Linked DNA regions of Homo sapiens: region 1 is linked to region 2. The links come from fine-mapping of genetic effects on gene expression. Tissue or cell type: cerebellar hemisphere. Region 2 holds a variant in brackets; the other region holds the start of a gene. All regions are shown on one strand. Distances are from middle to middle.

Region 1 (15,640 bases), 22 kb before region 2:
TCTGACCTATATAAGGTCCTAAGCCTTAGATAAATAAGGCTTGGGAGAAACGATTCCCAAAGTGCGTGTTTGGACAACTCTAATCTAAGAGAGTTCCCTCAGGGCAACTGGACCCTTCTAAGTAAAGCACAAGACACAATGCTGGGTAACTTTTGACTGGAAAAGTATATATCCAACAATAATTACATGTATTTTTTTAAAGAACAAAAGCAAAAATACAAAGAATTTAAAATTAAATACAGCAGTGGTTATTCACCTAAGCCAGAGCTCCCCAGGACCGTTTCTGGGGGATGCTTAGCAGAAGCAGATGTGATCTCTAGGCTAGTAAGCCTGAGAAACGCTAAAATTGAAAAATGAAATAGCTCATTTGGATGAGCAGAGCTAGGCGATTGGAGGGCGAAACAATCTGATGGTGAAAATGCCATTGATGAAAAATTTGTACTGGTATCACTTAAAAGCTTGCCTCACATTCACCTCCCAGCAATTTTAGCAAAGATTTAGTGTTCAAGAAGTTTGCATTTAGATACTCAGTCGCTGTGCACCCACAATAGCCCTTTGGCTTCAGAATCTAGGTGGCCACCCGGACCAGTGATGACTGGGTGGATTTTGTTTCTGATTCCTTTCAAAGTAATACTTTGAAAAACTTTTGTCTATGAGCCTTATCTAAGATAGCTAAAATGTCAGTCTCCACAGAGGCAAAGTAAGTGGCACTGAGAAGTAAAAAAATCCAGCCAATCCCCCTGCCCCCTATTTGTGGAAATGGGGCACAGCCCCCATCTTGCATATATTTTTTCAGACATGTTTTTACTTCGGGAGAATATTCCCCTACAGAGTAAGTATCTTTAAAAAATGAAAATGGTGGATGTAACAGTCATCCTATGACCAGCCAGAGCTTTGCTGCTTTTTCACTATCGGGCCTACCTCTGCAATCATTGTTATGTTTCTGTGCTGGTATGGGTGTGCCCAGAAATCAGAAGAGGGATGAGTTGGATTGCAACAGATGGAGAAAATGCCCACTGCTGCTTTATAACATATTGAAAGCAAATGAAGAATCCCAGCCATGGGTTTCCATCTCCTGTTTTGAGAACAAGAAGACAGTCCGAGATGTAATAATAGTAATAGTAAATACAATGTTTACTTATTGGCTGTCTACTATGTATTGGACACATTACATTACTTCTCATTGTCACATCTCTGCAAAGAAGGTATTACAAGTCTTTCTTTAGAGGTGAGAAAACTGAGGCCCAGAGAGGTTAAGTAACTTGCCTAAGGTTGCACAGCTAGGAAGCGGCAGCACTGGGACACCACCTGAAATTAGCCTGGCTCTTTCTACCACGTCCAGCCACCTTCCTAAAAGCAGAGCCACTCACAAGCCTGGAAGCTTTGCATTCCCCAAGGCTGCATGTCAGAGCTCCATCTCCTCACTGATAAAAGACAAACACCACACTGACCGCTGGGTGCATTCTTGGCTACTGCAGAGTAGGGAGTTAGAGGCACTGAGGGCTCTGCAGGCACAAGTGTGCCCATGCCACTAGGCACGCCATCTTAGGATCTTCTGGCCTCAAGCCCTGGTGACTGTCTTGGTAGATTCTCTCTCAGGGAGGCCTCCTCATGTGGACAGACCAGGTCATCATTTGCTTTGATCCTAATAATCTGGGCATTTCCAAAGAAATGCAAATGCAACAGCTTAGTAAAAAGTAGACATTTTAAAAGGGATGTATGCAATGGGTCACTTAACTGAGCAAGAAAAGAGAGAAGACCTGACTGAAATTCTATGTGCGGCCTTTCCTCCGGGGAGACTGTGGAGGTGTCCCCTCAGGCAGCAAAAGCACCATCGCAGCCCTCGGTGTCAAGGCCTCTCTGAGTCGCGCTTTGCCTTACCGTACCTCGTTTCTGGGCTAGGATATTTTGAAACACTTTTGTCTATTAGCTTTATCTAAAATAGCTAAAATATCAGTCTCCATAGAGGCAAAGTAAGTGGCACTGAGAAGCAAAAAATCCAGCCAATGTGCAGTTTTCTCCTCCTGCCCCCTATTTGTGGAAATGAGGCACGGCCCCCATCTTGTCTGCTGGGTGGGGTTCTGTTTACCACGCTTGGCAGCCACCGCCACCCAACAATCTTTCATTTTTCTTTCTAACTTCACTTTGCCCCTACCTTGGTCTCTCCAAGCCGAACACAAATGGACCAGTGAGGAAACTGCAGGTAAAGACCCTGAAAGGTTATATGAGCTCCCTGGTGTGGTGTCTCAAGCCTGAAGCTCAGAGGCTGGAGCTATTGCCCCTGGCTGTCTCCCCTGAAGTCACTAAATTCCAGCGTTCTGGGTCCCCTTGTCCCCAGCACACAAGGATGGGCTGCTCTGAGCAAGCTCAGGCACCCTCACTCTGCCACACTGTGTGTGTGACTTAGACCCCACAAGGCTTTTCTGAGAAAACAGCTGTGACCTGACAGAAACCCCTGCAGCTGCACGGGCCTCAGAATCCCCCGAGGCGCTGGCCCGGGCTGTGCCTGGCTCCCTGGTGGGAGCAGAAGTGCCCATGGCCTCTCCTGCCCTCCCAACAGGGCCCCTAAACAAATTCCCACACCCAGGTGAGTTACCAGGAGCGATCAGGTGGGCCGAGGACATTTGCTTGCTTCACCTTCCCTGTTTCTTTAGATTGAAATTCAGCCTGCCCCACTTCTCAGGAAGATGCCACGAGGCTGATCCCCCTGAGCAGTTTGTCCTGTCCTCTTTTCACTGGTTTTCTTCCTCATTACCTGGGCTAGAAAACATGGTGGAAGCTAAAGGCTTGCAGCAAAGCTGGGCTCCCACGATCGGGAATGAGGTGAGGAGCAAGCACTCTTGTTGGCTGGGCGCTGCTCGTGGTGGTGACTTAACCAGGCACATCGTCTCATCTGCCCCGTGTTCTGTCAATGCCGGGCCCTCTGGCTGGGCTAGATGGCCGCCTAAGGGGCAGGCTGGGGTGAGTCACGGAGCCTGGGATGGTGCGTCACCCGGCAGTCCCAGGCGTGGGTGTGGGGACAGCCATGACAAGGCTGAGCCTAGACACGGACGCTTGGCCATGAGGTGGCGAAGGCGCTGTGGAGGCTGCCACCCGGTGCTTCCTGCCTGTGCCCCTCTCCTCCTTGGTTACCCCACTTACTCCCGGGCCCATTGGAGTGTTTCAGGCCATGACCTTGACTGACCAACAAAATCTTCTTTGTTGGCAAAGGAAGAAAGAAAGGGGCTGAGTGACGGAGCCAGCCAGAGGGTGAAAGAAGCTGAAGGGACTAGAACGTCGCAGCACGAAACATGGCCTGGCTGACATTTTCCGATCCTGTCCAGCTTCTGTGAAACACTCCCTCTCCGTTTCTCTACCCTGGGCCTGCCTCGGTTGCTCTCTTGCTTCCTTCTTCCTTCCTCTCTTATCACTCGAAAAATCTGTACCTGGAGGAGCTGTGTATTCTAGCAGCTGGCTCTGAACTGATGCCCAACTCGGCTGTGACGGAGCAGATGCCAGCACCGGGCCGGACCCCTCACTGCTCACTTGCCCATTGATTTGAGGAGGGCAGGATTTGAAGGAGACCCCAGCCCCTCACCACCCTCCACTACCCACACCCACTCCCCTACACATACACAAAGAGTTTCTAGAAGTTCCCTGCCGTCGACACGTCGGCCCTACCTGTAATCGGCAACTGTGCCTGCAGGATGGCCGCGGTGAAAAGCGCCTTCCACTTCATCTTGTCCTTTCCCTCAGAAAGAGGCTGGGAGGCAGAGGCTGAGGCAGCGGTGGCCGGGACGGTTAGGAGAAAAGGAGTCTCTGCTGGTTTTATTCTGCAGCTACCTCCCCAGGAAGTGGAGGACTGTGGGGCCTTTGAGAAAGCACCTGCCGACAGGGCCAAGAAATTCGCACTCCCCCTTTCGGTTCACAGGCAGGAAGCCCTGGAGGTTTGAGGGTTTGGGGTGTGTGTATGTATCTGTCTGTCTGAATTTTGCTTTTTCTCTCATTTGACCATTGTTTTAATGCTCCTTTTTTTAAAAAAAATAATTCTTATCTAATTCCTATCTTGATTGGTAAAGTCCATCTCTAGGCAAATACAAGTTCTCGATGGATGTAAGAACATTTGCTGTTTTCCTAGACTGTCAAATATTTTATGGTGGCTGGCAAAATGACAGAACCCTGGATTAGAGTCCAGGACAAATGTAGAGACAGATTCCTTGGGCTTTAGTGACATCTCTGCCTACCACCTACTTGCTGTGTGGCGTTGAGTCAGTCACTCAACATCTCTAGACTTCAGCTTCCTTATCTATAAAGCAAAGAGCTGGAGTAGATCTGAGGTTGCAGATCTGAACTTGGCCTGAATTTGGATCATTGTGTGAAATACTGTAGCTCACATAGTATTTTAAACACTTGTGTTAGTTGTCAACATTTAAACACCAGAGTAATTTACAATAATAAAACATTAAAACCTAGACATAAACTTCGTCTAAAAATTGTAATATATCTATATGAAACAAACTTTAAAACATTGCTGAAGAACGCCGAAAGGACTTGGGTAAATGGAAAGGCATACCCTTCTTTGATAGGAAGCTCTCTTTTAAGGAGACCACCATTCTCTCTTAATTAATCAATCTATTTCATTGAAAATACCAACAAAAAGTTTTAGAACAAGTTAAGCTGATTCCAAAATTGATATGAAAAAAATTAATGTACAAGAATAGCCAATAATCCAAAGTCACAGCAATCCAACATAAAATTGATAAATTGGACTTCATCACAATTAAAAGTTTTTGTGCATCAAAGGACACTATGAAGAAAGTGAGTCCTGCAAATCACCGCATACCTCTAAGTGATGGAAACAGCATTCCCATCATCAGACTTGGTACCTACTCAGAGCCTAAATTGACCCCTAAGGGGGCCGATGACTTACTCAAGGCCACACAGCAAGTAGGTGGTAGGTAGAGATGTCACTACAGCCCAAGTAGTCTGTCTCTACATTTAGTCTGAGTCTTCATCAGTGAAGGTTGTCATTGGTCTGGGGTGCTGACACACTGATGAAGCCTACATATACCAAAATGAAGACACAGCTGGGGAGGCCATCAGGGGGAAAATAGCAGAAGGAAAGGTGCAGAGGAAGGATATCTTCTACTGTGGAAAACTGTGGGCTACAAATCACAACCCAGAGCTGGTCTGCCCGAGCCTAGAGAGGATGCTCAAGGTCCTCCAGCTAGATTGTGTGGATCTTTACATCACTGAAATACCCATGGCCGCTAAGCCAGAAGACAAAATCTACCCTATAGGTGAGAATGGCAAATGGTTATATCACAAGTCAAATCTGTGTGCCACTTGGGAGACTTCGGAAGCTTGTAAAGATGCTGGCTTGGTGAAATCCCTCGGAGTATCCAGTTTTAACAGCAGGCCAGCTGGAGCTCATCCAGAACAACCCAGGACTCAAACCCAAGCCAGTCAGCAACGAGGTTGAGTGCCACCCATATTACACCCAACCAAAACTTTTGAAATTTCGCCAACAACATGACATTGTCATGATTGCATATAGCCCTTTGGGGACCACTAGGAATCCAACCTGGACAAATATGTCTTCTCTGCCTTCGTTAAAGGATGCACTTCTAAAAAGGTGCAATAAGATCACAGCTCAAGTTATTTTGCGTTTCAACATCCAGCAAGGGGTGGTTGTCATTCCTAAAAGCTTTAATCCTGAAAAGATCAAGGAAAACCTTCAGGCCTTTGACTTTTCTCTCACTGAATCAAGGACATTGAAGCCTGGAGTGAAAATGTCCGCTTCATAGAAATGCTCATGTGGTGTGATCATCCCAAATACCCATTTCTTGATGAATACTGACTTCAGAGAGTTCCTGAACAGATTCTCCCCTCCCACGTGTGGAGGACCTTAGGGTGCATAGTTCCCCATGGACACGGAAATGAAAGAGGTTTTATTATCTGAAAAGTGGTGATGGAAACATGCTTAACTTTTGTATAGTGTAAGTGATTTTAACTCACCCATGTTAAAGACAAAATGTTTAAATCTGTTGAAATTCTTAGGAAATTATCACCTAATATTTTATTAGATAAATGTCTTCTGGGTTCCAGACCAAAAACAAAACAAAACAAACAAACAAACAAAAAACAATTAGATTCCAGAAAAGACTTGAAAGGCAACAGATGACAACCAGCAACAAGTAACTCATGAATGTGGGTAGTAACATTGTTAGCCTGAGTTCTTTAGCAGTCAACAGGACAACAAAGACAGCAGAGGGCCCCCATGTGCCAGGGTGCTGGCAGTGGCCTTGAGGACTTGAACCATTGACTGCAATACAGACACAGCCAAGATAAGATCCAGACATGCATTATTAACAAAAAAGTGATTTGCTGCACCTTGAGTAGGGAGAGAGGGCTAAGTGTAGAAAAGTCTTAAAATAGAGTCAATTAAACACCACAGTGATCAACAAAGCCATAAGGATTTTATTGTTGTTTGTTTCTATCCGATGTATGTTTGTTTAGCTTTTACTCAGCTTGAAGGATGCATACTTGCTGGTTCTCTTTTGCATCCTCAGAGGGTCTGAGTTTCAACATAACTAGTGGTCCATACTTACATTGTCTTATATTCACTCTTGCCACATTGATCATCGAATCACCATTACGTGAAGTGGCTTGAAACAACCAACATACATAAATAAAACTCTGCATCATAAAGTATTCCAAAGACGGCTATTTTAAAACAAGACATTTTATAAGGGGACTTTAGGAGACATATTGAAAGAAGAGGCTTTATAAAAGTACTATGCTTAAGTCTTTAAGAGTGTTATTGGGATAGCTATGTGAATTTTGAGAAAATAGCACGTTCAAAAGAACACTGGTAATTGTACTCTATGTAAATTTTTAAAGAGAATAAAATTATTAGAATTCAACAACAGAGATGTACCTATTTTCAGTTCAACTACAGAAATATATTTTATTCATTCATATTAGATCACTCTCACAGGGCAAGAGAGTTCTTCAAAAATTATGCTTTTCCAAGACCAATTGCTTATAGATAATCTTCAATGACCTGTACACATACATTTCTGAGAAAGTATCACTTAAAAACTTGATCTATACTGATTGTTTTCACTGATTCCGATGTTAATACTTACAATGCTTGTCCTCTAGACAATACTTTGTTCACAAGAAATCATGAAATATGATGACAAAGAAAGACAAAAGAAAGAACGAAGAAAGTGAAAAGACAACCCAACCCACAGAATGAAAGAAAACATTTGTAAATATACTGATAAGGGTCTAGGATTCAGAATATATAAATAACCCCTATGACTCAACAATAAAAAACATAACCCAATTAAAAATTGGCCAAAGATGTAAATAGACATTTCTCCAAAGAAGACATACAAATGGCCAATTAGCACATGAAAAGATGTACAACATCATTAGTCATTAGGGAAATACAAATCAAAACGACAGTGAGATACCACTTCTCACCCACTAGGATAGCTAAAATAAGAAAACAGACAATACAAGTGTTGATAAGGATGTGGAGAAACTGGAATTCTCATACATTTTTGTGGGTTATATAAATGGTGAAGCCCTTGTGAAAAATAATTTGGCAGTTCCTCAAAAAGTTAAACATAGTATCATGTGACCCAGCAATTCTATTCCTAGATATATACCCAAGAGAATCGGAAACCTAGGCTCACACAAAAACTTGTAAAGGAATGTTCATAGCAGCATTATTCACAGTGGCCCTAAACTGGAAACAATTCGAATGGCCACAACTAGGAATGGATAAGCAAATGCGCCGTATCCAAACAATGAAATATGACTCAGCCATCAAAAAGAATGAAGCACTGTTACATGCTGCAACTGGGATGACCCTTGAAAACATTATGCTAAGCGGAAGAAGCCAGGCACAAAAGGTTACATAGTGTATGATTCCATTTATATAAAATGTCCAGAATAAACAAATTCATAGAGATAGAAAGCAGGTTAGTAGTTGCCAGGGGATGGGGAGAGTGGGGAATTGGGACTGTCAATAGCTATGAGGGTTCCTTTGAGATGATGAACATGTTCTAGAATTGGACAGTGGTGATGGTGTGCAACAGAGTGAATATACTAAAAACCATTGAAGTATGCACTTTAAAATGACACATTTTATGTTATATGAATTATATCTCAATACAAAAATAATGCTAAAACAAACACAAGAATAGTTAGGAAAATTCTTGCAAAGAAGAGTAAAGAGAGTGAAATAACCCTGCCAGATATCAAACAATAAAAGGGGTGTAATTATCATACAGTACTTAGGGTACTATAGACTTAAACATATATGGTCAATTGGTTTTCAATAAAGGTACAAGAAAAATTCAGCAGGAAATGGTAGTCTTTTCAACAAATGGTGGTAGAACAACTGGATATCCACATGGAAAAAAAATTGACCCTCGGTTCATACCATACACAAAAATTATCTAAAATGGTTCATAGACCTAAATGTAAAACCCAAAACTATAAAATTTCTGGAATAAAACATAGGAGAAAAATATTTGTGATAGAACACAAAAAGTAAAAACCATAAAAGAAAAAATTGGTAAACTGGACTTTATCAAAATTAAAAGTTTTTGCTTTGTTCATTGAAAGACAGCAGTAGGAAAATGAAAAAGAAGCCATAGACTAGGAGAAATTATGTCCAAACACATACATCAGACAGAGGACTTATATCCAGAATATGTAAAGAACTATTTTAACTCAATAGTAAAGTAATCAACTCAATAAGAAAATGGGCACAAAGTTTGAATAGACAATTCCCAAAAGAAGATAAATGAATGGCCAATAAGCAAGTGAAAAGATGCTAAACATCATTAGTAATTAAAGAAAAACAAATTAAAACCACAATGAGATACTACTACATACCTGTTAGTATGGCTAAAATTAAATAACTGGTCGTTATCAAGTGTTGCCCAGGATATGAAAGAACTGAAACTCTCATACGCGGATGGGGGAAATGTAAAATGGTACAACAATTTCTGAAAGATCTGGCGGTTTCTTTAGAAAGTTAAACATACACTCACCATATGATCCAGCCATTGCACTCATGTATCTAACCAAGAGAAAAAAAAAAATATATATATATATATATATGTCCATATAAAGATTTGTACATCAACACTCATGGCAGCTTTATTTGTAATAAACTACTGGAAAACTACCCAAATATTTATCAACAAATGAATGGATAAACTAATTATGGTATATCCATTCAATGAAATAATACTGAACAATAAAAAGAAATAAACTGCTAGTGCACACAACATGGCTGAATCTCAAAATCAATATACTGAGTGAAAGAGGCCAGGCAAAAAGAGTACATATTGAAAGATTCTACTTACAGGAAATTCTACAAAATCTGAATTAATCTGTTGTAACAGATTTCAAACCACAAACTAAGAAAGGTACTTGCAGCACTGTGACAAAGGGCTTAGTTCCTTAATACATAAAGAGCACCTAAACATTATTCAGTTTTAGCAAATAATTTTCAAGTGTCCACCAGGTGCCAAGCATGGTACTATACACTGAAGATATAACTGGGAGTTAAATAGACAAAATCCTTGCCCTCGTGAAATGTTCAAGCTGACGGGAGTCTAAAACAACGTTAAAAAAATGAGAAAAGGACTTGAACAGAGAGTTCATGGGAAAAAAAAGTAACACATAGCTGTCAAATGAATGAAAGATTACCAAAATCACTCATAGTAGGAAAAAATCGAAATTAAAATTACAATGAATACATATCAGATTGCTATCAGCTTCTCCACTGGGTTCCGTCTTCCTTTGCTTCCCAAGGAAATTGCCCCAGATATTCTCTTTTTTCTCTCCTGCATGTCAGTATTTTCCTCTAAATTGGATCATTCCTATCTGTATACAAGCATGTTATTTCTCTCATCTTAAAAAACTCAAAGACTTATATAGCATTTGCACATTGGAACTTGCCATATTTCTTATCGCTTTGGGAATCCAGTCTCCACACTAAGAAGCCTGTATTAACCCGCTGGAGACACGTGGCACAGCTGACAGCCAGCGCTGACTTCCAGACAAGTAAGGCTCTCTTACATCATCCAGACCCAGCTGAACCAACAGAGGACTGCAGCCACGTGGGTGACACCAGATGAGACCGGACAAAGCACTGCCTGAGTCCAGCCTAAGTTGCTGGCCGACAGAATCATGAACTAAAACGGTTGTCGTTCTAAGCCACTGAGTTTGGGAGGATTGTGACATACCAAATGATAACAAAATACTCAATATCCCCATATCAATCTCAGGAATTGCCCTAATTGGCCCACCTTGGGCCATATGCCCACTTTTTGGATAAACCAGTGCTTCCAGGGGGTCAAGACGAGATTGGAGCTGGAAAACTCTGGTTTACAGCCTTAGCAGAATCATTCGTAATAGAAGAAATGAGGGGAAAGGATTCTGGGCATATATAGAACAATGACTGTCCACGACAGCCAGCCTTGCCCTGGTGTGTGCAGTGGGATGGGGTTGGCAACTAGAACGAGGCTCACGCTTTGCAGAGGGGCACACAGGCAAGGCCCAGAGCTGGAGCTGAGAGGAAGCTGGATAGAACATGATGACCTGCAGCTGTGAGTTTCTCATGGTGGAAGCTCTGGCTCTTCCTCATGATTGAATCCCTGCTTCCTGATATATTTTGGTGGGTGGGTAGATGGATAGATGGATAGATGCATGCATGCATGGTTGGATGGATGGATGGTTGGGCGACTCAGTGAGTGAGTGGCTAGATGGATGAATGAGTAGGAGGGTGGCTGGTAACATTCAGGATGGCAGGAAGTCCAATACTATGTAGGAGGATGCCCCAACTTCCTCTCAGGAAGAGCACAGTAAGGGAAACCCAGAAGCTGGTGAATGGAGATTTTAGCTGGAAAAGTTGTCATTGTCATTACAGAGAAGGGCCCCTGCCATTGAGGGGCTGACTGGAAAATTGGGTAGCGTAAAGAAAATGTAAAGACAAGGTATGGGGGAAGGGACTGGGGCTCAGGACTGGGACTGAACTGATGGAAGCCAAATGGCTACAGCTACAAGCAGGAACAATTTAAAGTGTAGGGCCAAGCAGAATATAAGCAGCCATGTGGTAAGAGGAAGATGCTGGTGCTAAATAAATTCTCATAATTCTCCAAATAAGTAATGCTGGTGAAGTAATTATTTTAACTTGTCCAGCATCTTTCCCCTCCCTTTTTTGGAAGCAACCTCGTTTCCCTTGGAGGGGAGCGCATATTCCCTCAACGGAGTGGGATGTATGCCGCTGGCTGGCTCCCGGTGTGGGCATGGACCCTGTGACAGCCAATCAGGCATCATATCCTTCTGTCTACAAAGACCGGCTCAGGGAGGGCCCATGAGAGCCATTTTCAAGATTCTTGCTGGAACTCCAGGGAAAGGGGCACCATTTTCCCGTAGAGAATGGTGACCGTGGGGTAGTGCAGCCTGCAGCAGTGGAGGCCGTCTATTTCCCACCGGGAGAGAGCCTGACGGGATGAGGCCAACAAGAGGGAAGCAGAGCCCAGAGACAGGAAGAGAAGGATGGTTCCCATTTTGCCCCCTTGTCAGTCACAGGAGCCAATAAATACCCCTTTTTGCTCTTTGGGTCGATTCATCAGAATTTAGTGGGAAAGCTTTGTCTGCACCTAGAGGAGAGGTTGTTCTGAGGCGCCAACGTGCTTCAGGTGAGCTGGGTCTCTTCCCACAACCACTTGCTCCCAAGGGGCCCTCCCAGGATTCAGATTTCCCTGGGGTTCTTTCTCTACAACAGCTCCTTCTAGGCAACAGGGACTCGGCACTGAGCCTCGCAATTCCCTGGCTCCTGATCATCAGAGAAAACAGCACAAAAAAGAGGATTGGTCTCTGTCCCTTGGGGTGTCCAGAGACAGCCTCTCCCAAGACCCCTGTGAGGGGAAGCACTTCCCTAGCCCTTGAGACCCCAGCATGTTGACCCAGGCCCTGTGCCTCCCTTCAGCTGACTGGTCCAGGGCTGGCAAGCAGCTGGAGGCCCACACAGGCTATTCCCTCACAAAGTGCATTTCTGCTGGCAGGATCCCAGCCAAACACCTCGGTGGAGCCTTGTCTCTTCAGCCTCAACCCGAGGTTTCCCCAGTCATAGCCTGTGTATGAGCCCCTCCTTTTGTGACCGCAAGCCTTGGCTCACAGGAATCCTTTTGCCTGAAGGCCCTTCTCTCCTTTCCCCAACCCAGGAGCTTGGTCTCGGACAAGGTGTAAATATCCCTTCACTGTGAAGCCTGGCTCACACCTACTAAACCTATTAGCTATGTCCATCGCATATTGTTTAGTGCTGTGTTAAAAAACACTTGTCACTTTTTGCCTTGGTTATTTGTTTACACAGATGTTCACACAATGATAATCCAAGCTCTTCAAGAGCATGGACGGAGTTTTATTCATTTTGTAATCTTTAGTGTCCAGTACATAGTTGGTATTTAATTTGAGAGAGAGAGAGAGAGAAAGAAAGAGAGAGAGAGAGAGACCAGACCATTCCTGACCCGAAAACCAGATGGGGTAGAGAGCAGCAGGAAACAAAATTTAAATGCTCTCTGGGAAGTTCAGTCCCCGGGGTTAGAGACCATGTCTTAGGCAATTTGAATGGCCAGAACTGAATGCAGTGCCTGGAACATAAAAGGTGCTCCGTTAAAATTTACTGAAGGAATGAGGGGGCATGACCCCAACTACTGTTATCGAGAGGGGAATGAGGGGAATGGGTTTGCAGAAAGGGCCAAGCATCCCTTTAGTGACAATCCCAGGTAGAATCTGCCTTCTAAGATGCTACATTTGGGCCAAGCATGGCCCCCTCCCACCACCACCTGCACACAGATCCACATCTTATGGCTCTGATGGACTCCTTGGGCTCCATGACTCTTTCATGTCTGACCAAAGCTGGAGGAGAGGGCAGAGCCTAAAGAGCCTAAAGGAGCCCCCACCGGCTGGGAGTAGAGGCTGAGGAAACTGACATATCAGTAACTGCTGGTCCTTTTTTTTTTTTTTTTTTTTTTTTTTTTTGAGACAGGGTCTTACTCTGTCACCCCAGGCTGGAGTGCAGTGGCATGATCACAGCTCACTGCAGCCTCGACCTCCTGGGCTCAAACGATCCTTCCACCTCAGCTTCCTGAGTAGCTAGGATCACAGGTGTGTACTGCAACACCCAGCTAACTTTTTCTGCTGTATTTTTTGTAAAGACATGGTTTCACCATGTTGCCTGGGCTGGTCTTGAACTCTTGAGCTCCAGTGATCGACCTGCCTCAGCCTTCCAAAGCGCTGGGATTACAGGTGTGAGCCACCACGCCCAGCACCAGTCTTTATCTGAGCTGAATTTGGCTGACTTTGAGTGTGGCCCAGGATATGACTGCATATAGAATGTAATTTCAGTGGATTTCTGATCCCTAAAACACACCCTCTCCACTCACCTACTAATATCCACCCAAAAATACATGCTTAGAGAGTCACTCTTTTGGCTAAAATTATAATAATGGTGTGTGGGAGCTGGCTGATATCAGCACATGAGAGCCAACTGTTAAATTTTCAGGAATTTTCCCAGTTGGTTGTTAAATCATTGGTAACTTGAAATTGGCTGTGGTGGGGGCAGACATTATACATGAAAGTTCATTCTGTATGCCCCAGCACACCACTGACTAAACACTTTTCTTCCATTCAGAAGCAAATGCCCTTGAGAGATATATAAAGCCTTATCAGTTATTTATACCTTTGTGTTAAATACTGAGTCACAGACCATTGTCCCAGTTAGATGGGGACTGGAAATCATTAATCTAACCTTTATTTAGTAAATGAGAGAATTGAGACCCAGAAAGGTAACATGACTTACTGAAGATATAGAATTAGCTAGTTTCAGAGTCCAGACTGCAACTGAAGTGCTCTGATTCTCAGTAAACGGGATGCCATAATAGACATTATATGCTTATATTTACACCCAGCATCCCTTCCTCCCCCCAACCCCCATATTAACCCTGGCCAGACCATGCAGTACAAGTGGAGCTAACCCCTAGCCTGTCTGCGCTCAGGGATGGTCACATGACTAAACCTGCTCCATTAGAGTATTCTGTCTTCCTCGCCATTGTAACTGATTAGGGGAAGAACATATTAATGCAGGGATGTTTTTGTAGGCCTGGCATCAAGACCCCCATCTTCTAGCAATAGTATCAATTTTGCTTTGAAGAGTCAACTATTCTCCACGATTATAATCTCTTTTTTTTTTTTTTTAATGGAATCTCTCTCTGTCGCCCAGGCTGGAGTGCAGTGGTGCAATCTCGGCTCACTGCAATCTCCACCTCCCAGGTTCAAGCAATTCTCTGCCTCAGCCTCCTGAGTAGCTGGGATTACAGGTGCCTGCCACCACTCCCAGCTAATTTTTATATTTTTAGTAGAGACGGGGTTTCATCATATTGGTCAGGCTGGTCTCGAACTCCTGACTTCAGGTGATCTGCCTGCCTTGGCCTCCCAAAGTGCTGGGATTACAGGCGTGAGCCACCGTGCCGGCCGATTATAATCGCTTGATGAGGCTATCAGGTAATGTCAATCAGCTGCTTTCTCCCCGGACTTTAAATCTTAACAGAATGAAACAAGACCTGGACATAACCCTTGTTTGTTTCTCCTTCTTGGATCCATCCCAGAAGTTGCTCATATTCTGTGGCTACACGAACACTGTTCCAGCCAATTTCCTTTTTTGCTTAAGCTATCCAGAGCTGATTTTTGTTGCTTGCAACCAAAGGATCCTGACTTACACAGTAGAATTTTTGGAAGTTGTATTAGCTTTCTATTGCTGCATAACAAACTATCACAAATGTAGTGGCTTAAAACAACACATTTATGATCTTACAGTAATGTAGGTCAGAAGTCCTGATATAGCATGGCTGAGTTCTCTGCTCAGGTACTTACAAGGCTGAAATCAGTGTTGGCTGGGGCTGCAGTTCTCATTTGAGGCTCAGGGTCTTCTTCCAGGCTCATTGGTTGTTGGTAAATTTTATTTCCTCTCAGTTATAGGAGTGAGTTCCTGTTTTCCTGCTAATGATTGGCCAGGGAATGCTCTCAGGTCCCAGAAAACACCTGCAGTTCCTTGCCAGGTGGCCCCCATAGGCAGTTCACAATGTGGATGTTTGCTTGCTTCTGGCCCAAACACAGAGCATCTCTCTGACTTAGTCTTCTGGAACCAGCTGGAGAAAACTCTGATTTTAGAGGATATGCCTGATCAGGTCAGGCCCACCCAGAACACTCTCCCTTTGCCACATAAAACCGCAAAAGCACAGGAGTGATAGCTCATCGTATTCACAGGTTCTTCTTACGATCACGAAGATTGTACCATGGCGTGTCAATCTTGGAGGCCACCTTAGGATCCCATTTCTCACAGAAATGCTGTTCAAAAAGATGCTCCCTTCTTCCTCTGGGAAGATCAGACACGCCTGGTGTTCATCTTTTTCACCAGATGGAAGAAGCTTGCCTGGGAATGAAGCCAACACAGAGAACAGCTGAGCAAGAGACATAAAGACAGGCAGAGCATTTGCTGCATTGTTGAGAACCTGGATCGTGCCATGCCTAGCTGCCTGTCCCAGGGGCTTTTCCATCTCACGAG
Region 2 (14,852 bases):
ACAAAATGCATTCTAAAGGATTAAAAAGTATAAAAATTAAACATAACAATTTGAAAATCTGAATTGACATTTATCAAATTTCTCAAAGGAAACAAACATACCAAGTTTAAAGGAAATTAAACTTAAAGAAGTCAAGGGAAAAATATTATGTTAATTTCTTCTATAGAAATGGAAAATCTATAGGTTTTAAACAAAATAACTTAAAAGGAAAACTGAGTATTAGCAACAAATTTACTAACTAAATGATTTCATAGACTGAATATACAGAATTCAGCAAGATCAATTTTTTAAAATGATCCCCCAAACATAAGTGGACAAAGAATATAAATTGACAGTTTTCAATGAGGAAAAATAAACCAAAATAAATTTTAATGTTCAATGTTATTAGTAACCTTAAGAATTGCCAATTAAAATAACACACTATTTTAACCCATCGCAGAGTAAGCACTTTCATACACTGCTTGCAGGGCTGTTCATTGATATAAATTCTCTCCCCTCCCCCATTATTATGTATTTTCCAAAATTTTACTGAAAACATCCTTTCAAGAAATCTCTATTGAACTCCTGAATCACCAAGCCAAACTTGTTATCTAGCTCCCTAGCACCCACTACTCATGCCCCCTCCCCACCCACAAACATAGATTAGCTCTGCATTCCTGCCTTGGTGTGTTGCGGGGTGAAGAAGAGTCAGGAAGCCTTACGCTGGCATAATCTGTGTCTCAGACAATATGACCACATGCCAATTTAGTGTGGAGTAGAAGAAATGGCCAGGATTTAAAGCCTGGAGACCAGAACTGGGTGGGCTTGGGAAAGTCACTTAACCTCTCTAGATCCTCAATTCTTTATTTTTTTTCAATTCAATTTAGAAATCTTTGTAATTTTCAGACATACACAAAAGAGAATAATAGCAAAATGAATCTCCAGGCACCTCACCTAGCTTCAACTGTTACCATTTTGCCAGTTTCTCCTCATCTAATCCCCTATACTTTTTTCTTTGCTAGAATGTTTTAAAGCAAACACTGGACATTATAATTGATACACATTCTTAAAAGCAATTTATAACATGTACCAAAAGCTTTTGGCTTGGAAATTCCACTGCTGGGAATCTAAGGAAATAAACAGAAATGTAGAAAATATTTTATGTGTAAGACTTTTCTAAGAGGAAAAAACTGAAAGTAACCTAAATATGCAAAAACTGGAGAAAATGCTAATAGCCTTTGGTTTTTGCCTGCTCAGTGTTCCTTCAGTTCGCATAAGCACTCTTTTCATTGCAGGAGTCCCCCTTCTACATTCTCCCAGTCTCTGTGATTCTGATGGTGCTGAGTGAACCCGCAACTCCAGGAGAAGCCACACTACTCAAGTTCGGCCAAAGAGGGCACCCCATTCCCAGACACAGTGATTATTCGGGAATGGCTAGGGCCCAGCTAGGAAGGACACATCCTCTTGGTGGTAAGATTGCTGGCTGCAATGAAAACTAACACGGCAGAAAGAGGAGCCAGGAAATGAAAGCCAAGTTCTGAATAATATAAGATCAATGAACTCTTTTTGTTTAAACAACTTTGACTTAGGTTTCTTGTCACTAGCAACAGAGTCCCAATGCAGACCATTATTTGGTGGCCTGCTTATATTGATCTGATGAAATATTCTGCAGCCATTCTCAGCCATCCTCGTGAATGGCTTCTAGGAACACGGTTGTTTATGATAAAGTGAAAGAAGCATGATACACATTCATTAAACAGCAAGATCTTGACTATGTTTAAACATCACTCCCAAGAAAACACACCCAAAATATTAGCAACCATGCTGGTTGGTGAGGTTATAAATGTCAAACTTTTTATTCTCCACATTTCCTATACAAATGTCTTACAATAAATCTTAAAGAAAAAACTGAAAAATTTACATTTTACTGATTTGTACCCCCCTTAATTCCAAAAGGAATTATAATTAAATTATAATTATCTTCTCTAATAATATTTATAGAACACTTGGTTTTGAAGTGACAGTTTGGAATTCCCCTAGGAAACACTGACCAACCAGCATTACACAAATTAGAGCATTATTTCCTCAGTACTAAAACTGAAAAACATGCTCCCTTAAAAGAAAGTAGTCTCCTTTTCAATTACTTTGTGATCTTCAGTCTAAATACTACTAAGAAGGGAACATCACACTAGCAACCTCCTCAGAATATCTGATGCATTTATTTCATTGAACTTCGTCACATTTCATAAAGATTTTTCTCCACTCCCCCACATACCTGTCAAGGACTTTGAACCTGGACTAGAACACAGAATAAACTATGATTATTGGCCATGGTTGGTAAAGACAAATGGCCTTGACCAGCTGAGTGCAGAAGGATGGTCAAGATAGCATCTGCCAAACGCAGCTGTCTGGACTCTGTAGCTTCAGGATCCTGAGCTACTCCCTCTTTCCACTTTTTTTTTTTTTTTTTTTTTTTTTTTTGAGACGGAGTCTCGCTCCATCGCCCAGGCTGGAGTGCAGTGGCGCGGTCTCAGCTCACTGCAAGCTCCGCCTCCCGGGTTCACGCCATTCTCCTGCCTCAGCCTTCCGAGTAGCTGGGACTATAGGCGCCTGCCACCACGCCCGGCTAATTTTTTGTATTTTTAGTAGAGATGGGGTTTCACCGTGTTAGCCAGGATGGTCTCGATCTCCTAATCTCGTGATCCACCTGCCTCAGCCTCCCAAGGTGCTGGGATTACAGGTGTGAGCCACCGCGCCCGGCCCCTCTTTACACTTTTATCTTTCTCTATCAGGGCCTGTCCTGCTCTCTGCACCAAGGCTGACTCCCCCTCCCCACCCCAGTCTAAGATACTCATCTCCTAGCTGTTTGAGCCCAGGGATCTGTTCTCCTTCTGCAGCAGGTGGGGTGCAAGGAGACCAGAAGCCTGATGTAGAAGCACATGGTGTGGAGGGAATGATAAACCCAGGAAAACCTAGCAGCAGCAGCAGCAGCAGCAGCAGCAGCAGCAGCAAATCAGGCCTCTGCTTCTCCTCTTGCCCCTGCTGAGCTGCATTTACTCCAGCTCCTAACCCAGAGCATTATTCCTAGGGGCTTGATTTGGCTGTGTAAGAAACCCAAACTTGCACAAAGAGTAGTCCAGTGCCCCCTAGTGGCTAACTGGAATATTAACAGTGACATATTCTGGCACATTCAATTATAAAAGAATCTGCCTGCTGTGAAACACTGGTTGACTTTACTCTGTATGATAACTAGATCTTACCTGAATGTCGATATGTATTTATGTGGTTCCAAATGCTGGAGAAAAAACTCACTAAGTGGGTAAAGGGAGAAAACCAAATAGCTGCCCTCAACCTAATTCTATCACAAGGTACACTGGCAACCAAATCCCTGAGGCAGAACCTGTGACAAAGGCTAGATCTGGCCATGCCCAGAATTTTAGGACACAATGAGCTTTTTGCCAATTAGAAAGAGTGGTATTATTCACTTCAAGTTTTGAAACAGCCAGTGACTGATTTAGGAACATGCTATTTCGACAGTAGACAATAAAACAAAGTGTAATAAATATTAATGTCTATGTTTAAGAAAACGAATCCAACACATTTCATTAAAATAATTCTTTTAATTATTGATGCTTTGAATAAGAAGTCCATTTTACTAAATTTAGTATAAATTATTTTTCTTAAACAGAACCTGTTTGCTGGATCTCAGTTAAGTTCACTTTGCAGTTTTCAGACACAATGACTCATATTCAACTTTTCTCTTTAAGGATTCAGTGGCTTGATTCCTGACATTTCCTCTTTAAGAGGAATCTTATGTCATCTTCTGAAATCATGTATATGGGTAATAATATTAGTGTCTTCTCTTCTGAAGATGTGATTCTTTTAATGCCATGTTCTCTTCCCTCTGGTGACCTGACTTAGATTGTAGCAGCACTAGAAGCTATTAAGAGATTTGGGGCAGTTGAGGAAGCCTTAGGTAATTGTTAAGAGTAGAAGTATTTTTAAAAAGCTGTGGAGAGTGGTTTGGGAGGGGATTTTGTCCCTGGCTGAAGCTGGTCCATGCCTGGGTAAACTTTACTTATAAAAGAATACCAGGAACACACAAAATATTCTTCTCCTCTTTCTTTTGCAATCCAGTTTTGGAGCCAAAAAATAATCTGTGTGCACATGTGTTTTGATAATACTGTTTCGACTTAGGTGGGGAAATTAAATTCAGGAGTTTTATGACTTTCTTTTGTTCTGAGTATCACTTTAGAGTATAAAAAGTTTTTCAAAAGTTCTTTATCAGAAATAGTTTCACCCTATGTTGAATTAACAATACCCAGGATTGTGAGACATAAATCAACGTGAGTAGGAAGCTCCATCTGAGTTTCATCATTGTTTGTCTATCTTGGCAAGATTTATTCAGAAGCACCATAATGGGGGCCAATCCTTTTGCACCAGGCTCAGGCAGCTCAGGAGGCAGCTGTGGTGAGTGATGCACTCTACCAAGCACAGTGGCTTCTAGGAATAAAGAACACATACTCAACTACCTTCAAATGCCAATGGGCAATTTAAAACTGGTACTCATTCCTCTTCAAGAGCACCACTGGAAACATCTTTGGAATTGATGGGACAAAACTTATTTGATTATAGTGAAGGATATTTCTCTACGAAAATGGCTTCAAAATAGGAAAAAAGTAGCTACCACATCTTCCAGGAAATCCAATAACAGGTCAACTCTATTGGTAAACAAGCAAGTAAACAAGCAAGCAAACAAACCAGCATGTGACAGAAAACTGGCTAATATTCTGGGACGCTTTCCAGAGAAACATTAAGCCTTTTAAGTGTGTATGAGCCACTTTAAGAAACTTCATAAGTGTTGCTAAATTCACCACAGTCTGCTTCACCTAGAAAGGGGAACAGAGAAGAATTATTTTGTTAAACTGGGTTAACAAATCTTAAAAATTAATTCATTCTAGGGAAGGACTAGATAAAATTTCTGATCTAAATTAAGATTTTCAGTTCATTTCAACCACTAGAATATACTAAATAACCACTTGGGTTTGTTAAAATGCAGACTCCTGAGTTTCGGTTTCAATAGGTTGAGGGTGGGGCCTAGGAATCCTCATTTTAGCAATAACCCTCCTCTCCAAGTATGATTCTGACACACTGATAAACGCTACTAGGATGTAGCAAGAAGCAGGCCACTGCCGTGGCTGCTGTTGTTATCTCATTTAAGAGTATCTGAAGGCTTAAAAGACAAAAATAGTTGAGAACAGAAGGGGTCCTGAACATCAGGGCAGAAGAGCAGTGATTAGCCATTGCCCAGTGATAGTGACCACAGCTGGGAGGTGAACTTTCCCCCTTTCTGCTGCCACCAACCAGGGAATCCATCTCTAGGTATCAAGACTGGGCAAGTCTGTAATCCATGACCTTTTGTTACCTGTGTGTTTGCTAGGAAATATCCGGATGTGCGCCAGAGGAGATAAAATGAGGCTTAGCACAAACATGCTGCTGCCCAGACTTAACAGTGGTCAAAAGCAATGCTTATGCTTATAAGAACTGCTTGTTGGGCGGGCGCGGTGGCTCACACCTATAATCCCAGCATTTTGGGAGGCCGAGGCGGGCAGATCACGAGGTCAGGAGATTGAGACCATCCTGGCTGACATGATGAAACCCTGCCTCTACTAAAAATACAAAAAATTAGCCAGGCGTGGTGGCAGGTGCCTGTGGTCCCAGCTGCTCAGGAGGCTGAGGCAGGAGAATGGCATGAACCCAGGAGGCAGAGCTTACAGTGAGCTGAGATCGCACCACCACACTCCAGCCTGAGCAACAGAGTGAGACTCCATCTCAAAAAAAAAAAAAAGAACTGCTTATTCCAGGGTGCCAGCAAATGCTTCGTGTAGACATTTAAGCCTTCCACTGATCATGCAAACATGCTCATGGGGGCTTCACCCAACAGTCCAATGAGGCAAACCACATTCAGTTAAGCTCCGTATCAGCTCTCACAAGTGGCAGTCTCCATCTGTGTGAAACAGATTTCAGATGCAGAGGGCTTCGTGGTATTTGGAGGAATAATACCTTCCAAAACCGATCTGGGCAAGCCAAGCAAGGTGGCTGCCAATGTGGGGAAGCTCCAGAACGCCTGTGAGGCCCCTGTGGGTGGTTCTCCAAGAAGATGGGGGCCCTGGTCCTCACAGATATCACTGTACACTCCCCGGACTATTAAACAGCTCTGGTGGCAAACCTGGCGGGTGGGATTAGTGGGGGCACTCCTAGACTCGGAGATGGACAATTCCTAGCCAGAGGCACCCGGTCAGAGCGGGCAGCTTTCAGGCCCTGCCCATCCCTCGGGTTCTGGTGCACTGCCTCAGAAGAGTCACATCTGCTCTAGCCTTTGGGCCGCCTCTCAGGACAAGGGAAAAATGTTCTATCTCTGTGCTGCAGAGAAGTGCTCCTTTGTCAGCATAATAAAGTGGGAACCTCAAAAGTATCTGTTTTACTCACTTATTCAGTGTGGAGACTTATGGGAAAACAGTTTTATTTTGTTATTAAACCAGGCACTGCCTTTGGGCATGTTATTTATATAAAGATAACTGCGCTTTAGAGATTATGTCCTGTGAAAGTAAACTTTAACTTCGAAGAGCAGGCCCTTCTTAACAGTCATCCTGATAATTTGTTGCCAGGGAATAAAGTTGTAATTGCTACCTCTATATTCCTATGAAGTCAGATGGCTTTGCCAGCCCAGAAGACGACCAGTGGCCCGTGCCTCTCCTGCATGCACAGCAGCAAAACAAGCGCCAGGACTGTGGGATTCTTTATTCCAACAGAGTGTGAGAGTGTTTGTCTCAAGTAATGAGCCAGACAATCATTCCTAAACACCTGCTCTATGACACACACTGTCCTAGGCCCTGCTTGGAATTAAAAAAAATTAGAAACAAAACAAAACTGAGATTTCCAATCATGGTAGGGAGTCAATAGTTCAACACGGAATTGTTCTACAATTGAAAAAGACAGAGATTAAATAAATGCTAAGAATTTAAGCCCTCAAATGACCTACAACCTACAAGTCTACCTTAGTTATCATCACCGTAATCTCCTGAAACAGCAGTCAATCATTACAAGCAGAAAGTGCATTATAAATTACACTGAGCTAGGAGCCTGGCCAGCTACCAGTGAGGCAGCCAGAGGAGAAGTACAGCATCATGGATAGAAGTCAGGTGATGGCTCTGGAGCAAGAATGCCTGGGTTTGAGTCCCAGCACCACCACTTCCTGGCTGCAAGAACAAACAGTTTAGGCCAGTTTGTTCTCTGTGCATCAGCTTTCCATTTCACACATGTGGAAAAACAGCACCTACCTGTTGCGGTGGAAGGTTGCGCAAGAAAGGGATGTGGTGAGAACTGAATGAGTTAATACATGAAAAGTAGCCAGTATAGCACCCAGCCAGTAATAAACAATGGACACTAGCTGTTATTGTTACTGTTCTTATCACCTCCCCAGATATGCCAGAATTCCCTGTGTCACCTGGGAGAAGCACCAGTCCCTTGTATTCCCTCATTTGAACCCTTAGCTAACTCCAAAGACTCCAGTTACACTCTTCTTTCCTTTCCCTTTCTGTCTTCAGGTCCTGGGCTTTATTTTCTCCCATGGCCTCTTTTATCTCAGCCTCCTCCCTTCCATGCACTTCTTAGTGGGATAAACCACACATCCCCATAGGCATTTGTAGTACTGGGGCTGATGGGATGGGGTTACTTGCTCAGACTCAGATGAAGGGCATTCACAGTCCAGGAGCACCTGAGTCTAAGCCTCATGAGAAAATGCCATCGTGGGTCATAACTGGGCTCTGTTCAGGGCCCAATAAGCACAGCCTTAAAATGGAGTCTCAACCTGGTGTCCAGGCCTGTAGACAGAGTTCAGGGGTCTGCGAACTTGGCTCAAAAAAATTTTTTTTTCATTTTCATTAGGCTCTAACTGAATGTATCATTTCCTTCAATAATGAATGTAGGGAATAAACCACAGGGTGACAGCCTATCTGTGACTGTCTCCAACAGAAATAGAGAAATCACAGATACGTTCATATCATGTCACAGGTGTTGCAGATGTCTTAAAATATTGTCTTCAATCCTCACTACTTTAAAAGCACAGAAAAGGCCAGGCATGGTCGCTCATGCCTGTAATCCTAGCACTTTGGGAGGCTGAGGCAGGCAGACTGCCTGAGCTCAGGAGTTCGACACCACCCTCTTTATGAAAATACAAAAAATCAGCTGGGTGTGGTGGTCTATGCCTGTATTCCCAGCTGCTTGGGAGGCTTGAGGCATAAGAATCGTTTGAACCCAGTAGGTGGAGGCTGCAATGAGCTGAGATGGTGCCACTGCACTCAGCCTGGGTGACAGAGTAAGACTCTGTCTTGAAAAAAAAAGAAAAAGTAATAGACTTATTACTAGATCTTATATTTAATATATTAATAAAACGATTATACCACACATTTACAAATATTTTCATAAATGTATTTCATTATAGTTGATTTTCTTCTTAATCCTCTGTATTTTATGTGTTTAAAACATTATTCTGAGAAGGGGTCAGCGGCTTTACCAGACTGCCCAGGGTGTCCAGGGCACATGAAACGGTTAAACCCCCCT[T/C]GCCTTAGAAGGCTGAGGATGGCTGTAAGGGCGGCAATCTTAGGTGAAAGATGTGTAAGTACTTACTGAACTGTGACATTATAATATTCTTCTGGTGTCACGATTTTTGGTCCACCAAAGTAGTCCAGGACCCAGATATTGGTTATATTCAACTTAGCAAAGAACCAATTATGGCTGGAAGGCCAGGTTTTCATCTCAGGGTGTCGAATGAATAACGAATGCTTTGCAATATCCATTTCTGTTTCATTCACCTAAAGGACATATATGAAATAAACATTCTTATGGCAGTAACACTTTATCTTCTCATTTGTTAAGAATGTGTGATTAGGCCGGGTGCAGTGGTTCACGCCTGTAATCCCAGCACTTTGGAAGGCCAAGGCGGGCGGATCACGAGGTCAGGAGACTCAGACCATCTTGGCTAACACGGTGAAACCCCATCTCTACTAAAAAAAAAAAAATTAGCCAGATGTGGTGGTGGGCACCTGTAGTCCCAGCTACTCAGGAGGCTGAGGCAGGAAAATGGCATGAACCCGGGAGGCGGAGCTTGCGGTGAGCCGAGATCGTGCCACTGCACTCCAGCCTGCATGACAGAGCAAGACTCCATCTCAAAAAAAAAAAAGAATGTGTGACTCTAGCATTCTATAAATCCTAAGAGTTTACTTACTTGTAAATCTTGATCTTAACCTTAAGGAATCAAGAGAAAATAAAGGAAATGTAAAGAATGCAGAGAATAAAGATTTCAATTGTTGGTAATAACAGATACCACGAAGTGGGAAACCACTGTAAGTATAATACCAACTTTCATTGGTAAAAAGGCATTTTGAGCTATTAGAATAACTAGCACTAAGTACTGTAACATTACTGGTGCCTAAGACATGTAATGTTTAGCATATTTATCCCATAACATGGACATGTTAAACATACAGATGAATGTACTGAAGGATAAAAATGTTTAGAAACCACATAACAGAACTCAAAAGCATGTGCTGCTCCTCCATCTTTTTCCTGCCAGTGAAGGACACTCAACTACAGAGATGCATCCACAAAGAATTTACAGACCATAAATAACACTTGTCTGAGGCATTAATGATTGACACGGTCAAAAAGCAAATCTGCTGGCTGGGTAATCAGATCAGCACTCCTGACACCATGCCCACTGCTCTTCCTGAGATTGTATTTGACCTCTTCCCTTCAGCAGGTGATCCAAACTAAATTCACTTCCAGTTTTCAGTAATGGATAGTCCTCTGGTTGGCCTACTTAATATGTTTTCTCTGCTTTAAGCCACTGTTAAAATATGGAGACAAGGAGCCCAGACATGGAAAAACATTATACCAATGTAAAATGTAATGGAGAGTAGAGGGCTTTGGTCAACCAGATGCTCTTTAGTAAGAATAACTTTATATACAGGAGCTTCATAGTTGTTACATCTGCTTGGCTTCAGAAAATCATTCATTTTTGTCATATCTTATTTAACACCTATATGAAAGCAACTTATTAAAACGTTTGGTTTTCATGGAATTACTTCACCTATTAGAATAGAACATGTTCTGACTGGGCATGGCAATCACAAATCAACTGCATTTCATTCTGAAAAGATCTATTCTGCCAGGCATAGTGGCTCACGCCTGTAATCTCAGCACTTTGGGAGGTCGAGGTGGGTGGATCACTTGAGGTCAGGAGTTCAAGACCAGCCTGGCCAACATGGTGAAACCCCATCTCTACTAAAAATACAAAAATTAGCTGGGTGTGGTGGTGCGTGCCTGTAATCCCAGCTACTAGGGAGGCTGAGGCACAAGACTCGCTTGAACCCAGGAGGCAGAGGTTGCAGTAAGCCGAGATCACACCACTGCACTCCAGCCTGGGAGACAGAGTGAGACTCTGTCTCAAAAGAAAAATGATCTATTCTTTCATTGTGAATACGATGGTGTTCTGAAACCATCTCCCTTCCTGTAGGATAACTACTTACCTTGGTCACAGTTCCTGACAGCATTATGTGAACACAAAGGGGACTTTGTGGATCAAATCCATGTTTCTTGCAGAAGTTGGTCTGTGCCAAAGTCATGGTCAGTGTAGCATATGGATTCTCCTATAGAGAGAAAATGAAGATCCTCTCATGTGAAATATGGTTTCTGGAGAGGTAATAAATTTCAAAAGTTGCATACATGATGTCCCTAGAGCTTGACTGGTCTTCCACGAAACAATGAATCATAAAACATCACCTTCCACTCAGGGGAAAATAATACTTGGAAAGTATCCTGACCACTCCCCAAAGGGGGTGCGGGGGTTCATATTTAAAATGAACTGACTTGGTAAAAATTATTTCAATATTCTTTTTCTGAAACCCTGAATTTATTCCATATTCATCAGAAGAATTATAATTATAGTGACACCCAAATTCAAGGCTGTTCTATAGGCTTCACTGAAAGATTTAAAGGGTTAAACTCTATACAAAACCATTGCTAAAAACACCACAGTTGCTCAATTGGCTAACTACGCGATTTAAGCAAGAAAGTAGCTGAATCATGCTACTTGGTTATCTTACATTAGCAGAAACTGTCATGTGATTTCAAAACTGGAGAAGTTGTTCATTCCTGCTTTAGTAACAATGAGTTTTATCCCACATTCAAAAAGTAACACAAGTAAAATTCTTAATGCTTTCTTATTCAGAAATCAACTTCATAAAAGGCACTGTTGACAGATTATAGCAAAATTCACACATCGCATTTTAGACTATTTAGCTCTTTAAGCTCTAAGTGCCTTGTGTGGAGAATTTTGCCATTTCACACTGACCCATCAAAACAAAGAGTCATAAAGAGATTTCTTTGAAATCATTTAGCCAAATAGTCACTGTCTAGAAACTATTAGGCAAGGCACCACAGGAGACCAAAGAAGGGGAGGGGGACACTCAGGTAAACTCTCTCCCTCCGTGAGTTTATAATCTGGTTGAAAAGGCAGACATAAACAAATGTGTATGTCCAGCATAGACCAGAGTGATAGAGGAACTGTAAGGAGCTTTATAATATATTCAAAACCAGGATAGAAGGTGGGAGGACATATTAAAGGGAGAGGAGACACTGACTGCAAAAAACACAGAACTGGGTGAGCCTAAGACTTGATGAACAGTACCAAGAAACCTGATTTGCTGGAAAGAAGGGCTTTCCTACGGGAGGAGCCTGGGGTTGGGAGTGGAGAGGGCTCCAACCTAAGTTAAGGAGTCTAGATTGTAATTTGTGGGCCAACCTTAGGCACTGTTTTCTAAGAACCACCTGCCTGGAGAGCTTGATAAAATGCTGATTTGGGTTAAAATGTTGAAACAGGCTTCACTCCCAACCCAAATAACTGCAATTTTTTTTTGTTTTTTTTTTTTGAGACGGAGTCTTGCTCTGTCACCCAGGCTGGAGTGCAGTGGTGCGATCTCAGCTCACTGCAACCTCCAACTCCCAAGTTCAAGCGATTCTCTTGCCTCAGCCTCCCGAGTAGCTGGGATTACTGGTGTGTGCCACCACGCCCAGCTGATTTTTGTATTTTTAGTAGAGACTGGGTTTCATCATGTTGGCCAAGCTGGTCTTGAACTCCTGACCTTGTGATCCACCCACCTCGGCCTCCCAAAGTGCTGGGATTACAGGCGTGAGACACCGCACCTGGCCTGCAATATTTTTTTTAAGACAGTGTCTCACTCTGTCACCCAGGCAGCCACCCAGTGCAGTGGCACAATCATGGCTCATTGTGGCCTCAACCTCCAGGGCTCATGTGATCCTCCCATCTCATCCTCCTGAGTAGCTGGAACTATAGATGTGCATCACCACACCCGGCTAATATTTTTTTATTTTTTGTAGACATGGAGTTTCACTGTGTTGCCCTGGCTGGTCTCAAAATCCTAGACTCAAGTGATCCTCCCACCTCGGCCTTCCAAAGTGTTGGGATTACAGGCATGAGCCACCAAGCTGTCCTCTATCTGCATTTTATTATTTAGAAACAGAATCAAGCTCTGTCACCCAGGCTGGAGTGCAATGGCGTGATCTCAGCTCACTGCAACCTCTGCCTCCCAGGCTCAACTGATGCTCTCAACTCAGCCTCCCAAATAGCTGGGACTACGGTCGTACACCACCATACCCAGTTAATTTTTGTATTTTTAGTAGAGGTGGGTTTCACCATATTGGCCAGGCTGGTCTCAAACTCCTGACCTCAGGTGATCCGCTCACCTCGACCTCCCAAAGTGCTGGGATTACAGGCTGGAGCCTCCGCACCCGCCTCTATATGCATTTTAAACAAACATCCCAGGTAGCTCTTACGCAGCTATAGGCAGCTGGGTATTGTTAAAGGTTTCTGGCCAGAGGGCAATGCTGTGACAGGTATTTTTGTTAATCTATTTGGGTAGGCAAGGTGGATGGGGCAGACAGGAAGACTATGTAAGAGCTGTTCTAGTACTTTTAGGCATGAGATGATAAGCTTAAGGATGAGGTGGCAGGAATGAAGAGGAAGGGGCAAGGACAGAGGTAAAGAAGGCAACAAAAAACTGTCAGGACTTGGGAACTGAGGGATTTGGGGAGGCAGTGAGAACCAACTGGGTTTACTGAGAAAACAATAATTCCACTAACAGAAATGCAGAAGATCAAAAGCAGCTTGTTTCAGGAGGAAGAAGGACTGGATTTAAACATGTTGAATTTGAAGTGGTGGCAAAGTAACGAAGCAAAAATGAACAGCAAGCAGAAATATAGAGAACTTTGAAGAGGTCAGAAATGGACACACATCTGGAAGTGAGTCCTAGTAAGGACTAGAAGAGAATGTATACAACGAGAGTGTATACAATCTTCTGAGGATCGCTGCAGGGAACAAAAGAGTAGGAAACTGACTTTGAGGGATACTTATTTTAGTGGGTCAGAGAAAAAAAACCAAGAGTGACCAGAACAGAAAGGGGCACATCACAAGAAAAGAATGCCAAAATGGAAGGGAGGCTAATAGTAAGAGGTCTTGGTGCAAATAATCAAACCCCAAGATTTCCCTTCAGACTCACTGGCTCTGCAGCCAAACACGGTCCCACTATAAGCTAACATCAGCAACACTGTCCTACAGACATTTACTATACAAAAATGCCACAAAGAAAGAGACATACAAAAGAAACAGCCCAGTGGTAAGTACGTTTGAAGCTCACAACATATCTCTAAGTTACAGAGGACAGGTATTTTACACATGAGAAATGGTCCCAAACCTAGGTCTTTTTGTTCCTTCTGAACGATTTCACCCCCTGTCAATGAGAAGAAATGCAGAGCACCCTGGAGGTCAGGAGGAGGAAAAGAAAAAAGCAGAAACTTTGACCTGCTAATTGATGGAATCAAGTCAGACAAATTCTAATGTGGCCACTTCTTTTCACTGCCATCATGGAAACCTAAAGCCCTGGGTAGGTTCCTTGCCACTGCCCTGTCTATTTCTAGAAACATGAAAGACCTGGGCTAATGTCCTACCTGACAGCCATTAGCTGACTGGTCACAGGGTAAGTCCCTGCACCTCTGAGTCTGTGTTTCCTCACTTCCTAAATGGGGACAATAATACCAGCAACTCCCTAGTCACCTCACAAATTTAAATATGATTATGTATTGGTCAATCTCCCTCCTCCCCCATTAGAATCATCAGGGAGTGGTTTGTGGGGAGGCGGGAAGGGGTGTTGTCTTAAAATAAAATGTGCTTTCAATAAAATACCTTGGCATCCCATTTTTAAAGCCTTCTTAGGTGACTATGATTTGCAGTCAAAGTTGAGCACCACTGATGGAGTGGAGTGAGTTTGTTTTGAGCAAACGCCTAAAGGTGTGGAATGGGCTGGGAATAAGAAAATGGTGAACTGGGGTGTATCTGCCTTAGCTAAAAGAGGGCACTGCTTCTGTTTTTGCTCAAAGAGTGCAGGCCCACAGTGTCACTGGATCTTCCCATTTTTCAAGAAAAGTTAGAGATTTACATTTTAAAGTAAAATCTAAATTTTAAAATGTTGGTAACAAATTCAAATTTATTAAAAACAAAACAGAACTTTGTGTAGGCCAAACCGGTCTGTGGGACATATTCAGCTGATGGGCCACCAGCCTGTGATAGGTGGTTTGAAGAAAGATGAACCTGAGATGAAACTAGGGGTTTGCCCGCTGGCTTTAAACAAGTTACTTAACCTAGGTAGGCCTCAAGTTCTTCATCTGCAGAATGGGGTATATAATACCTACTTCAAAGAATTAATAGAAGAGACAACGAATGGAAGGCAAATGGAAAA

Alleles and levels. Positions count from the first base shown, and alleles are read on the strand shown. Sizes are in standard deviations (SD) of each study's normalised expression.
With allele T in place of C in region 2, the expression in cerebellar hemisphere of the gene that starts at base 3,782 in region 1 is lower (small effect, 0.37 SD a copy in GTEx).

Evidence for each region. PIP is the estimated chance that this variant, and not a neighbour inherited with it, causes the effect.
Region 1: CD247 starts here. The variant in region 2 is fine-mapped to the expression of CD247 in cerebellar hemisphere (GTEx, PIP above 0.99). The same link has a PIP of 0.9 or more in cerebral cortex and prefrontal cortex.

What each region holds. Positions count from the first base shown.
Region 1 is chr1:167,514,748-167,530,387 of GRCh38, forward strand. CD247 (CD247 molecule) reads right to left here and starts at 3,782. Exons shown (of 8, transcript NM_198053.3): 1 at 3,661-3,782. The coding sequence starts at 3,718. It overlaps LOC107985224 (a long non-coding RNA gene), which reads right to left. Exons shown (of 2, transcript XR_001738279.2): 2 at 14,792-15,508. It also overlaps the pseudogene AKR1D1P1. RefSeq lists enhancers at 2,179-3,142, 2,414-3,613.
Region 2 is chr1:167,537,434-167,552,285 of GRCh38, forward strand. CREG1 (cellular repressor of E1A stimulated genes 1) reads right to left here. Exons shown (of 4, transcript NM_003851.3): 2 at 10,569-10,688; 3 at 8,668-8,852; 4 at 3,580-4,868. The coding sequence ends at 4,865. Among named protein-coding and RNA genes, the nearest start is that of CREG1, 8.9 kb to the right of the region's middle. RefSeq lists enhancers at 2,569-3,069, 11,072-11,216 and a cis regulatory region at 11,135-11,152. The variant T/C (reference allele first, on the strand shown) is at 8,602.